2 separate regions of the Homo sapiens genome follow, and region 1 is linked to region 2. The links come from fine-mapping of genetic effects on gene expression. A gene starts in region 2. The other region holds a variant in brackets. All regions are shown on one strand. Distances are between the middles of the regions. Region 1 overlaps MAP3K9 (mitogen-activated protein kinase kinase kinase 9). Region 2 holds the start of TTC9 (tetratricopeptide repeat domain 9).

Region 1 (2,901 bases), 140 kb before region 2:
TTTTGAGCAGGAAATGAGGGAGCTTCTTTCTATAAGGACAGTGGATGGAATTAAAAAGGGGTATTTGAGGAAGCGTTGCTGTGGATCATATGAAACCTTTGGATGCTCAAGAAAAATAAGAGTCAGACTAATTTGAATTTACTTTAGGATGCCGTCTTCCTTCCCACCTTACCGTTGTTTGGACACAGTACTGTCCTGGGCTTCTAACATGTGAGTCTGTGGCTTTATATGCTTGACTCTAGTTGCATGGACCATGAATCTGGCCAATTTTAGGTTTCTTACAAGCATTTTGATGCTTGATTTGATGTGTAGTATATTGGTGGAGAGACTGGGATAATGACCTTCCAGGAAGAGTAAAAGTGACCCCACTGAGGAAAAATAAGATATTCTAAGACTTTTCCTTACATGGGCATTCACTGAAGGCAGAGAACACGGCATTTGAGCGTTTTCCCAGCAGTTTCTGGGTATGCCTGTTATGCCCACCTTCCAGGTAGCAGGGAAGGAAGGAAAGGACTGGCTTTCACCTGGAAACTGAGGTGTAACATCTAGAGAATTTGTATAGTTTTGAATTTTCCCTACCATGGTGAGATCCTCAACTCTGTCTCATGGGGAACAGGATTTGTAGAGTAATATTCAGAGGTAGACTAGGAAGATGCTAGGAAGTCTCATCTTCCCCATGCAATGGACATGGAGGTGGGAGGAAGGAATTAGAAAAGCATCCATATCATAGACTGAAAGACAGTGAGTCAGAGCAAAGCTAGTCTTGGCCTGAGGAGGTACTTGAGGTTGGTTCCTCCCTGCTCTTACATGGAGAGGTTGAAAAGTGATTCATAGGAAACTTTAATTGGTGTTTCATAGCTTTCCAGGGCTATTAAGGACTTGTGGTTCACAATGGCAACTCCCAGTGTTTCGAGCCTTTGTGGTTGGGACTTCCTTGCCTGCAAGGTGATGGGATGAAGGTGGTATCTGTGGTGGCTTGTACCGCTTCCTCCTCTGCCCTCAAATCCTTTCTCCTCTGCAATGCCTGGGGTGAAGTGCAGGTCACAGAGCCTGGA[A/G]TGTTTTCTTTTTGTATAGATCATGATTCTCAACCGATGTGGGTAATTTTATTACCCAAATGTCCTCATAAGAAATTGACGTGCCTGCTATTGCATACATGCTGTAAGAAATACGGTCAATTTATTATATACATAACATAGAGGTCACTTCCACTGCATTCTTTCCATCCTTAGGAGTTGTGCTATGTAAACACATCCTAAACAACCAGAACAGTGTGATGTAGTAGGGGGCAGCGTGTCAAGATACATGAGATGGGGTCTGGAGAAGGCAGAATTCCCTGGGAGGCCTTGATGGAACAATTAGGCCTCAAAGAAGGGGTAGGATTCAAGAGTTGGTAATAGGGCAGGTAGGCCATAGCTATGACCTCCCAGGGAAGGCGGCCTGCCCCAGCTCAGACAGAGCCAAGTGTTCACTGATGCCATGTCCCATCACCTGGGTTCTTTAGGCAATTCCCAGACCTGGAATGTTGACTAGGAAAGCCATGCTCCCAAGAAGTTGAGTCTTCCATGTGAAACAGCTCCTCTTTCTAAGTGGCCAGAGAACCTGGGCTGGTACAGTTGTGGGCTGGTACAGTTGTGGGCTCTGAATCAGGCAGACCTGGCTTTGGGCAAAGTCCTCGACCCTGAGCCCATTTCCTCCTCTGTAAAATGGGGATAATTCTAGTATTTACTCATGGCATTATAATGAGGATTAAATGAAGTTATGTGTGTAAACCCTTAGCATAATGCCTGGCACAAAGTAAATGCTCAGTAAAAGGTAGTTTTTCCTTTTTAAAAAATTCAAGAGCAGCAGCAGATATGAGACTAGACTCACAGTGTATCACCTACTGTTTCCATTACTATTTCTTCAGAACAAACGACCCCAAACAAGAACATTTTATTAAGCTCATGGAGACTTGGGTCAGGAATTTGGAAAGAGCTCATTAGGGATGGCTTGTCAATGTCTGGGGCCTCACCTGGGAAGACTTGAAGGCTAGGGGAGGCTGCAGATGGAGGCAGGAACCATCTGAAGGTTGTTCACACACATGGCTCAGTGCCTGAGCTGGGAGAAGCTGGAGGCCAGGACTGCTGATGGGAGTGCCCATGTGCAGTCTGTCCATGAGCATGGCTCTCTTAGGGCTCTTGGCCTTACATAGTGGCTCAAGGCTGCAGACCCAAGTGTTCCAGTGAACATGGGGAAGCTGTAGCATCTTTTCTGATCTAGCTTAGAAGTCGGGCATTGTCATTTCTTCTGCATTCTGTTAAAGTGAGTCTCAAGACCACTCAGCTTCAAGTGGAGAGGACACAGACCCACCTCTCAGTGGGAAAAGTGTCAAGATCACACTGGGGAAAAGCACAGAGGATGGGAGATGATGGACCACTTTGAAAATGCAACCTTCCATGCCTGCTAAGGGAACTCTGCTAGCAGAGCTTGGGGATACAAGGCCCTGGAGAGCCTGTGCGGCGGCTGCACCCCATGGCCACCTGCCAAGAAAGAACTGCTTTCTGTTGACAAAACCATCGAGCATCTGATAGGCTTCCTCTTTTTTGGTTATTTTTATCTGGTATGTAGCTGGGTACTTCAGAGGTATGACGGAGATCTGGCAGCTCTTCTCAGTCAGTTTGAGCTGATACGATGAGAAAATTCAGGGGAGGCAGGTGTTTAAGGAGATGTTCTTTAGTAAGGAAAGTGGCTGCACAAAAGCCTCTGGCTTTCTGTTTCCTGCTGGTGATATCTGCGCCTGGATGAGGTGAGGGATGGAGTCCCAGCTGTGTTTTCTGGGCTTAATTTGCACAAGATGGCAAGGGCTGTAGGTGTCCAAGTTGACGCCTTTTGAAGCAGTTATATTTTAGGATGTTAGAGAGA
Region 2 (2,901 bases):
TGTACACCTTCTTTGCCCAAGAGTAGGGCCCCCTTTTCCTTCACCCCTAGCAGCCAGCTGGCGTGAGGACTGATGCTACACATAGTGAGAAACGGGCAGGGAGGAGAGGGAGAATGCAGCATAGTTCAAGCCCAACCATGAACCAAGCTTCTTTTGAGATAGAGATCTTCACCTGGCAACCGGGAGCCCCAGCAGAGCTCAGAGAGAAGAAAGTGGCATTCTGGAATCCATTTTGCTCAAGATGCTGAAGGCATGGTGTCAAACTCCCCTTTGCTACTGGGGCCAAAAAACTTGGGGAAGATCTTACCTACAGGGATGCGGTTAGTTGGGGAAAAGGCGAGGACCAATCCTGGTGCTCATGCTACCTAAGGAGAGCAGACAGGTGCGTGGCCTCCCTTGGGACCCACCCGCAGGAAAAAGCTGGGCTAGCGGTGGCTGCGGGGGCCCACCCCGGGCGCTGCTTCCGCATTTTGGACCCAGGTCCACTGGTGAGCAGTAGCAGCAGCAGCCATAGCCAGGCCAGCTGGGTCCCCTTCCAGTCATTTCTAGGTGAGATTTACGATGTATGCTAGCGAAGGGACAAGAGATGATTATGGCCTTTGAAAGGCATAATCCTGAAAGTCACACTTTTTCCAAAGCGCCTCCCTCCCGGGTTCTCCCCAGAGCAACACAGTCACAGCAGGAGAATCTGCACCGCGGGAGCGCCGCAGTGGTCCGCGGAGGGACCGGGCCGAAGAACGGGGACCGCGGCGCGGGGGGCGCGGCGCGGCTCACCTGCCAGGCTGTTGTAACAGTCGATCTCGATGGCTTCCACCGTCTTGCTCTGCTCCTCCGAGAGGCGGCCGGGCTTCAGGGCCCCAGCCGGGGAGGCCGGGCGCGAGTCCCGCTCCCGTTCCCCGGGGGGCGGCAGCAGCCCCTTCAGCTCCAGCAACGCCCGGTGGTATTTGCCTATGGCTTCACGGAATTTCTTGTCCTTGTAGCACTGCGCCCCTTGGCTTTTGAACTCGTGCGCTCGTCGGATGAGCTCGGCCGGCTCGGCCGCCGCCCCGACCTGGCCCCTCGCTGGGGCTCCTCCGCCGCCGCCCGGGACGCACAGCGGCGGCGGTGGCCGCTGCCCCTCTCCGGCCGCGGGCGGGCTCGGGTTCCCCTTGGCCCCGGCCGCCGAGCCCTTTCTCTCCATTCGGCCGCCGCCCCGGCGCCTGGTGCGCGCCGCGATCTGCCCGCCGCCGCCGCCGCCGCCGCGCCTTCCCGGGTTTAAAAGCCGCGGGCGCCGGCCCCGCGCCTCGCAGGCTTCGTGGCGGCCGTGACACCCCGCGGCGGTCTGGCGCCCCGCACTCCCATTCTCCCCGCTGCTGCCAGAGGCTGCTCCAGCCGCCGCCGCCGCCGCCTCGGACGCCGGCCCCTCCCCCGCCTCCCGGCTCCGCGCCGCCCGCTCCCGCCCTCCTCCCTCCGCAACCTGCGGGTGGCGGGGGCCGGTGCTCGCGGGCCCGGGACTAGCGCTGCGGGGGGACCGTGGCCCCGAGTGGGGTGGCGGGGATGGTCGCTGACCCGGAAGAAGCTTGGCTTGCCCGAAGGAGGGGAGGATTAATGACAAAGACGGCCCCGCTCTTTCCCATTCAATCCCGCTCTGCGAGGCGCGCCTAGTCTGAAAGGAGGTGGGGGGAGGGGGGTAGGTGTAGGGGAAGGGGAGTGTGTGTGTGTGCGTGTGTGTGTGTGTGTGTGCGTGCGTGTAGGGATGGGGGGCGGCGGCGACGAAATGCGTGCAGAAATAGATTTCTTAACTACAAGAAAAGGTGCGGCAGGGAACAAGGGGCGCAGGCGCAAGCCGTAGCTGCTAGTTCTTTGCAGTAAGGTGTTAGTATTTTTTAAGGGGGCAGGGCCTCCTTTTTGTGGATCCAGGTTGTCGCTGAGGTGTGTCTCGGTGTGTGTGGTCGCCGGGGCGTCCAGAACGCGACGGGCGGTACAGCGTGTGGGGCGCCGTATTCTGGGAGCCTGTGTATGCGTGTGCTGTGTGCGCGCAGCTGTGCAGGATGAATCACAGACATCAGAGATGGAGAACACCTGTTACTGTGGGTCATCGGCTTGGCGTGCGTCCGGTCTAGTTTCCATTTACAGGACAGTTCTGTGCCCTTCCTCAGGAGGTCCCATTCCTTCCTTCTTTTGGTCGGTTCTGAGTGTCAGCTGTCTACTGGGGATCTGCTAAGGCTAAGAGGCAAAGATAGGCAAGTCACTCCCCTGACCTCAAGAAACTCCCAGTCTACAGGCGAAGATACACCACCCACCGGTAGAGTCGCTGGACCAGGTACAGATGGTGCCTGTCATTGGGGAGGAACGAAAAGTGCTGTGCAGCCCTGAGGGGGGGAGGGAGAGGTAGCTTTTTGAGTAGTGGTAGATCAGGAGGCTTTATGGAGGAAATAGCATTTGAGGACCTTGAAGGCTGGGTAGGATTTGGCATGAAGAAGTAGAAGGAAGTGGCATAGCCGGAGTGAGGAAATCCAGCGGAAGTCCTGATGTTTGAAATCTCAGGTGTGTTTAGGGCATAGTGGTTTGATTTTATAGCCTAATGAGAAGTAGTGGGAAATGACGGGGTTGGATTATGGGGGCTTTTGGATGAAGAGTTTGGATTTGATTTTGGAGTCAATGGAGAAGCCTGACATATTTTTTAGTGCCCTCCCTTCCTTAATGTTAAGAAAAAGAAAGATTCTAGAGCACCGGTTGTCAGAGTGCTGGCCCCAGACCTGCAGTGTCAGCATCACCTGGGAAACAGTTAGAAATGCAAATCCTAGGATCCTACTCCAGACTTAAGAAATCAGAAACTCTGAGGGTGGGTCTCAGTTAACCAGTATATTGGTTCAGATATGCTGCTTTAAAACCTTCCTACTCAAAATGTAGACCTTGGGC

What was found. PIP is the estimated chance that this variant, and not a neighbour inherited with it, causes the effect. A credible set is the group of variants that fine-mapping cannot tell apart.
Region 1: its variant is the best candidate, but not a certain one, in a credible set for the expression of TTC9 in whole blood (TOPMed, PIP 0.50).

What each region holds. Positions count from the first base shown.
Region 1 is chr14:70,780,532-70,783,432 of GRCh38, reverse strand. The region is part of intron 2 of MAP3K9 (mitogen-activated protein kinase kinase kinase 9); the gene reads left to right. Among named protein-coding and RNA genes, the nearest start is that of MAP3K9-DT, 27 kb to the left of the region's middle. RefSeq lists an enhancer at 2,655-2,744. The variant A/G (reference allele first, on the strand shown) is at 1,056.
Region 2 is chr14:70,640,409-70,643,309 of GRCh38, reverse strand. TTC9 (tetratricopeptide repeat domain 9) reads right to left here and starts at 1,394. Exons shown (of 3, transcript NM_015351.2): 1 at 775-1,394. The coding sequence starts at 1,180. It overlaps TTC9-DT (TTC9 divergent transcript), which reads left to right and starts at 2,012. Exons shown (of 3, transcript NR_110071.1): 1 at 2,012-2,302. RefSeq lists silencers at 840-909, 930-1,119, 1,340-1,489 and enhancers at 1,960-2,219, 2,320-2,499.